Linked DNA regions of Homo sapiens. The protein of the gene in region 2 purifies or fractionates together with the protein of the main gene of each other region. This does not show direct contact. Each region holds a gene or a part of one and is shown on either strand. Other genes may lie near its edges.

What was found.
Region 1: the proteins of KCNJ10 (region 2) and COPB2 purify together in Homo sapiens (affinity purification with mass spectrometry, with the first as the bait; one large-scale study listed by BioGRID). This does not show direct contact.

Annotation. Positions count from the first base shown.
Region 1 is NC_000003.12:139,376,057-139,379,707, reverse strand, and holds part of COPB2 (coatomer subunit beta'), read left to right. Parts: intron 1-241; coding exon 242-328; intron 329-534; coding exon 535-661; intron 662-1,518; coding exon 1,519-1,667; intron 1,668-3,651. UniProt on the Homo sapiens protein: The coatomer is a cytosolic protein complex that binds to dilysine motifs and reversibly associates with Golgi non-clathrin-coated vesicles, which further mediate biosynthetic protein transport from the ER, via the Golgi up to the trans Golgi network.
Region 2 is NC_000001.11:160,063,653-160,067,303, reverse strand, and holds part of KCNJ10 (ATP-sensitive inward rectifier potassium channel 10), read left to right. Parts: intron 1-3,651. UniProt on the Homo sapiens protein: May be responsible for potassium buffering action of glial cells in the brain. Inward rectifier potassium channels are characterized by a greater tendency to allow potassium to flow into the cell rather than out of it.

The DNA of each region.
Region 1 (3,651 bases), on a different chromosome or scaffold from region 2:
CTGGAATACCATCTTGTGGATATTTGCCTTCTCTTATCTTTTAAAAAGTGTTTTAATTTCGAATCTATTAAAAGATAGTTGGTCTTTTTTAAAAATTTGAATGTTGAGCTTTTATATTTTAGCCTGAGAATATACTAAAATGAGAAGTGATCTTAAAAATTGGATGTTTGAAATATAACAGAGTAGATTTTGTGGTTATTTTCTTATAGCTCAATTTGTGTATTCTTGTTACATTTTAAAGACACTGGTGAAGACATTTGAAGTATGTGATCTTCCTGTTCGAGCTGCAAAGTTTGTTGCAAGGAAGAATTGGGTTGTGACAGGAGCGGTAAGTAATTAATATGAATCTCTATTCCCATTTTCTGAATTGGTCAATGATTGTGTAAATTTGTTGCAGGATTTTGATTCCCGATTTGTTTTGTTATTTACAGCAATGTTTTGAGGCATAGACTTTATTCCTTGAGCCTGTGATATAGTTTTTTTGTATAATTTACTTGATAACAGGGATGATGGTTTTAAAATTTCTGTTTCTAGGATGACATGCAGATTAGAGTGTTCAATTACAATACTCTGGAGAGAGTTCATATGTTTGAAGCACACTCAGACTACATTCGCTGTATTGCTGTTCATCCAACCCAGCCTTTCATTCTAACTAGCAGTGGTAAGAGATGACCTTTTTTGGTCATGTGCGTCTCTTTGGGTAATTCATTTTCATTCACTGAGACATGCTATGCTTTAACTGCTGTTACAAATATAATTCTAATTCCAAGCGGCCTTTAAACTATTTAGATCCATTACTGTGCTATTGATGCTGCTTGTGTTTGTACTATAATGAAATATCAACTGTACTTAGGATTTGTGTAATGATTGCTCCAGTTCCTGTCAGAGAAGACCTACAAGTCTAGATGTTTAAACATCTGCTGAACAGAAAGGTCATTTACATGTTGATGAGTGAGTTTTTGGCAGATTGCCATAGACCCTATTCAGTTCAATCTTTATATTCAAACTAGTTTGCTCCTTGGTATTGTGTATAAATAGTAGACCTCTTGGAGGACTGGAAAAAGAGGTAGCACTGAATTAGTAATAGCTCTTTGAAATGTTTTTAAATTAAAAATTGAGAAGTAATTAAAAACTTTTTAAAAACCAATCTTGTGAGGGCAAATGCTTGTTCTCTACATAGTCATTGCTATCACTATTCAGTCATGCTTAGATCTAGTCAAACTTATATTACTCTTTGGCCATTCTTTAATGCCCACTGAATTTTTAAGTTTTTTCACAGAATTTTTATATTTTCTATTTCTAATCTATTTTATTTATTTTATCTCCACTTTTCTGTAGAGAGTTAAATTTATTTTTAAGATAAATAAGCATTTTGAAAACTCTATTTGGTTTTGATTCTATTTCTGTAAGTCATGGATTATATGGTTTGTGTTAGGTTTGCTTCTTCTAAAGACTGTGTCTTAGTTATGAAGTGAAAAAATAGAATTACAACTAACTTGAGACTTTCTTTTGGCCTAGATGACATGCTTATTAAGCTCTGGGACTGGGATAAAAAATGGTCTTGCTCACAAGTGTTTGAAGGACACACCCATTATGTTATGCAGATTGTGATCAACCCCAAAGATAACAATCAGTTTGCCAGTGCCTCTTTGGACAGGACTATCAAGGTAGGGCATCCACATTTTGTGTCAGTTATCATTATTAGTGAACTATACTTGCCTTAGGTGTTTTACTGTTGACTGGTCAGAAATGTACCCATCTTAAAAATTTTCCTCAAAAGCCTGTTTTGAAGTCAAAATAGGATTTCTCATTTTAATCCAAACGACATGTTCTGTTTAGAAAAATATTGTGGCAACTCAGTGCTCTTAATGAGGAGCGTTTTTCTGTGTGGAGGCAGCATGTTATAAAAATTTTTTAGCCTTTGGAAACCCAGAATAAGAAAAATGCCAATATCTTTTTAGGATACTACTGTCCTCTCCTTTTAGTATTCATTGTTGACTTCTGCTCATCGTTTATCTATTTTACATTTAAATTCCATATGCCTCTATTCTCTCTTTCTTACTCCATTTTACCACACTGCTGTCTGTTATCTTTCTGAAACAGTTCCTGATCTAAGGATAAAGTCCAAATGCCTTAGTGTGGAATACAAGGATTTCCAGGACTAGCCTGGGCTAATATTATGCGACATCTCCTAAAACCCTGGTCTACTCACCATCCTCTAGAGAGGCTATGAATGTTCACAAAACCTTACTTCATTGAACTGTTCCATCTTCCTGCACTTCTCTTTATTTTCCTATTTTGATATATTTTCCTCCGGAGAATTACTCAGCTTTTAAGGTTTAGCACAAATATTTACTCTTGAGAACCTCTTGTCAGACATCAACTTCACCTCTAGACAGAGCCAGTTATGCTTATCCCATTTCTTCCATTGCTTTTTGCCTCTGTTTCAGCCTTTCTCAGATTGAATTATTATTACACGTTTTTGGAAATCTTTATCCCCTGAAATACTGGATTTGGGGGATAGAAACTGTGTCACTCCCTTTCCCCAGCCATTCAATAGCAAACAGCAAAGTGCCTTACCTGACCTAGATGCTTAATACATGTTGCAGTGAGGGCAATCATGCTTCTTTTTTTTATCATAATATTTAAAATATTTCCATGCCAGGCACGGTGGCTCACGCCTGTAATCCCAGCACTTTGGGAGACCGAGGCAGGTGGATCACAAGGTCAGGAGATCGAGACCATCCTGGCTAACACGGTGAAACCCCGTCTCTACTAAAAATACAAAAAATTAGCTGGGTGTGGTGGCAGGCGCCTGTAGCCCCATCTACTCGGGAGGCTGAGGCAGGAGAATGGCATGAACCTGGGAGGCAGAGCTTGCAGTGAGCCGAGATTGCGCCACTGCGCTCCAACTTGGGGGACAGAGCGAGACTCCATCTCAAATAAATAAATAAATTAATTAATTAATTAAAATATTTCCATATGCATTGACTTAAAATAAATTAACTTTTGCTTACATGTTTGCTTTCACCTATATAAAACACTGTTAGTAGTTTTCCTTTATGTAAAATGTTATGTGTCTGAATATCTTAGGGTTTTAACCTTAGCTATTTTGCCTTTGATTGGATTATCCTTGCTTTTGACATAGATTAACTTTGAAATTAGTTGTAAACTTTTATTTTTACTAATTTAGGTTTATCTTGAGAACAATAATTGTCTTATCTTCAGTTCCAATAAAGTTTATTTTATACAGTAATTGATAAACATTTGTTACACGTTTATACTCCCCACAGGGCCTCCCATATAATAGGCACTCAATAAATATTTGTAAAGATAAAGCTTAATTCTGTGCTGTGGTAATTTTTAACAATTTTCTACACTTTAAATTGGTAATTAGGCAGTAATTTTCTCCTTTTAATAGGCCTTTATTTTTATTTATTTATTTATGTATTTTTGAGTTACGGTCTGTGTTGCCTAGGCTGGAGTGCAGTGGCATGATCACAGCTCACTGTAACCTCAAACTTCTGGGCTAAAGCGATCCTCCTGCCTCAGCCTCCTGAGTTGTTAGGACTACATGCGTGTGCCTTCATGCCCAGCTAATTTTTTACTTTTTACTTTTTTGTAGAGACAAGGTCTTGCTGTGTTGTCCAG
Region 2 (3,651 bases):
GCATCTGGTGGCCCCTCTTCCTCCCCTCCCCCATCAGAACCTTGAAAGGGCAAAGAGAAAGGGATTGTGGGAAATGCCCTCCCGTGGGTGTTTGCCAGCTTGGAGCCTGGATTTGAGGTGGTGGGGGAAGGGAGGGGCTGGCTCTGGAATGTGAGAGAGAAGTAAGAACAGAACTTTGTGGCATGGAGAAGGAGGTTGGAGAAGCAGGAGCTAGAAGAGGACTGAATCAGACCTCAAGCCTCCAACAAGGTGCAGCACAGAAAGGGTATACATGGCCATTGTGCAACTTTTCCGATGGCACAACACCTGGGGAAAGGATTGTGGCTGCAGCTAGAAGGACTTAGGTTAGATCTCAGGAAGCACATCCTAGAAAAGGAAAGACATTTGAAATGGAGACTGGGAAGGAAAGAGAGACCACTTTCTGGACCAAAAAAACCAACCAAAACAAAACAAAAACCACCAACAAAATCCCCAAACACAGAAGCCCATCCTTAAAGCTTCCGAGAGGAGTGATGGAGCTCAGAGTGCAGGGATTATTGTGACAACTGTCAGGGGCCTCCCCTGGGTGGCTGCTGCACCTCTCTCTTGCTGTTCCAGGGCTACTTTCCGCTCTGAGAGACAGCAGGCACTATGGTTAAGAGCATGGCCTTGGAGTCTGACTTTGTGGGATTCGGTCCTGGTTTACCACTTAGTAGCTAAGGAAGTCCCATCCTCACAATAGGGCTCATAACTGCTGTGAGGATGCACAGTGACTACCGTAAGGGGCTTGGAATGGTCCTTAGTCTGTAAAAAGTGGAGTTGTGGGCCATTGCTTTTCTCCCACCACTCTAATGTTTTCTACTGTGTCATCTTTCCTTGTTCCTGGGCTTTGTCCCAGCCCTTCTTTGTGGGTTTTGCTTTGTTTTGTTTTGAGATTCTGTCCTAGGTTTTTTCTTCCCACCCTTCTGGAGTTTGGGAAGGTAGAAGAATTATCAAGCAGTTTAAGATGCATTTCCTTCCTTGATTCCAATAGGCTGGGCATCACTTGAGGTGGGGTCTCCACACCCACAGCCCCTGCTTTCCACAAGTTTTTGCCAAGCAGATGTCCTGTCTTCAGATTCAATAAATGAGAACTGAGTGGTTGAGCTTTCACCAAATAGTCTCTTTCCCCATTCTCAGCAACTTCTCTTTCAGCCAAAGACTTCTGTCAGAGACTTCTTCTGTCGGTCAAGACAACCCCCACATCTCATTCCTGCTCCCATGGTCCTGCCTATCGCTCTTGTATTCTTCATCCTGCCTCTCCCTCTCCCGGCCCAGGTTTGCCCCCACAACTTCTCTCAGGTTTATATGCCCTTCTCTTCTTGTGTCTCCTGATTGGCTTGTTCATCCCATCAGCCTGGATGCCCACAGCAGCCTCCTTAATGACCTCCCTGACTCCAGCCCCCTCTCTCCTCGACTCCTTCCCTGTTACCCTATAATGAAATTATCACTGGAATTGTCATCATGAAGCATCAGTTTTATCTTGCCCTTTCTCTACCCAGACACATCTGTTGGCATTGGATAAAAATTTCCCAATCACAGGCTTCAAGAGACTTTATGCCTTTCTCCCATCCCCTCCAGCCCCATATCTTGTGGAACTGCACTCTTCAGACCCTGATCCTGGGGAGCATATCCCAGGCAGTCTCTGAGCCATGCTCCTCCCCACACTCTGGACCCTCACAAAGGCCATTCCAAGTCTCACCCCTCCCGCAGATCTCTATTCTCCTGTTTCCCTCTCTGCTCTGCCATCTTGCTTGTTACTTGCATCTGCAACTTGGCCCAGGGTTCTCCATGCATGGCGATGTTGGAGGAGACTTGTCTCCCTCATTAGCCGGGGGTTTCCTCTAGGGTGAGGCCTGTACCTCCGTCAGATTGGCAAAGGCATCTCTTCTCTCTCTGGACCCTCTGGCACCCAGCAAAGGGCCTGCCTCCTAAGACACAGAGTAGCTACTGTCCAGTTTGACTCTAGGTAGGAAACATTTCTGATCGCTTATTCTTGGGGAAGGAGCCTGACTTTGGAGGTTTATGTGAGCATCCTGCAGCAGGGTGTGTATAGGATCCTATTATCTAATTCTATAGGAGATCTCAAGAGAAACCCCTCTCCTACTAACGACCCCATCCTGTAGACATGGCTTCACCCTAAGATTACAAGCCCTAGAACCCCCAATTTATAGTCTTCTAAGCATTGTTGCTCCACCCACCCCCCCAACACAAATGCAGGTATGTAGGCCCCAGAGAGCCTTTCTCCCCTCACCAGGGCAGTCTGACTCCAGCCTGAGGCCGGGCTTGTCAGCAGCATCGTCTGGAATGAAAAAGGGGGATAAAGGTCAGAGTCTAGTCTGAGGCAGCCCCATTGTCCTGAGCATACCTCTGAGCAGGGGCTTGCAAGGTGGCAGACATGTGAGGTCACCTCCCAAGTGGGGTATAGGTCTGACCTCTTAGCACTGCATTCTCCCTGGACCAGCCTCCTCAGCTCCACTTCTGATCCCAGTTCCAACTGGTAGAGCCAGGCACACTCCTTCTCCACGTGTCTAAACCTCCCGGTTGACCCTGTGATAAAAAAGATATAGGCAACTGGTAAGAGGAGAGGGTGAGTGTATTAGAGTCTAGAGCACTGGTTTTTAAACTTTTTGACCTCAGGACCACTTTACATTCTAAAAAGTTACTGAAGACTCCAAAGAGCTTTGGTTTGTGTGGGTTCTATCTATGAACATTTACTGTGTTAGAAATGAACACTGGGACACATGAAATAATTATTAATTTTTGCATGTTAACAAAATGACGTATTTTTAATGAAAAACAGCTGTATTAAAGTAAACAAAAAGTTAATAAGAAGAGTGACATTGTCTTATATTTTCACAAGTCTTTTTAAACATCTGGCTTAATCAAAGACAGTTGCTTTCTCATCTGCTTCTGCATTTAGTGTGTTGCAATATCATAGGTCATGTACCTTCTGGAAAACTCTACTGAACACTGTGAAATAATGAAAGTGAAAAGGGCAAATAATGTATTGTTAGCATTATTATGAAGATAGGTTTGACTTTGTAGAGCCTCCGAAAGGGTCTCAGGAACCCTCCGAAAGGGTCCAGGGACCATACTTTGAGAACTGCTAGTCTAGAGGAACCTTAGAAGACAGTTTCAAAAACCTGGGCCAATTTGAATATCCTCGTTGATTTCCTTCAGCTGCCATGGTCTTTTGAATGTTCTCACCAGGGAGGTAGTATGGGGTAGTGGTTCATCATGTTAAGTTCTGCCTCTGTTCTACTACTCACTAGCTATGTGGCCATGGGCAAATTATTAATATCTCTGTGCTTCAGTTTTCTCATCTATAAAATGGGACTTTAAAAAGCACCCACCTTTAGAGTTGTTGAGAATTAAATGACATAATAGGAAAGGGCTCAGCGTAGAGCTCAATGATGTGAGCTCTCATTAAATTCCGGAGCCTTGCCCCTGAATCCACTGCGCATTGTCCCGAAGGCAGGGAGCTGCAGAGGAGATCCATCCAATGCTACACATAGGAGCTCGGCCCAGAGAGGGAAAGTGACCTGTGCAAGTTCCCAGAGAGAGTTGACAGGGTTGTTGGGCCCCGAACCCAGGAGTTCTAAGGCCTAGCTCCATCTCTGCTCTCCCCGC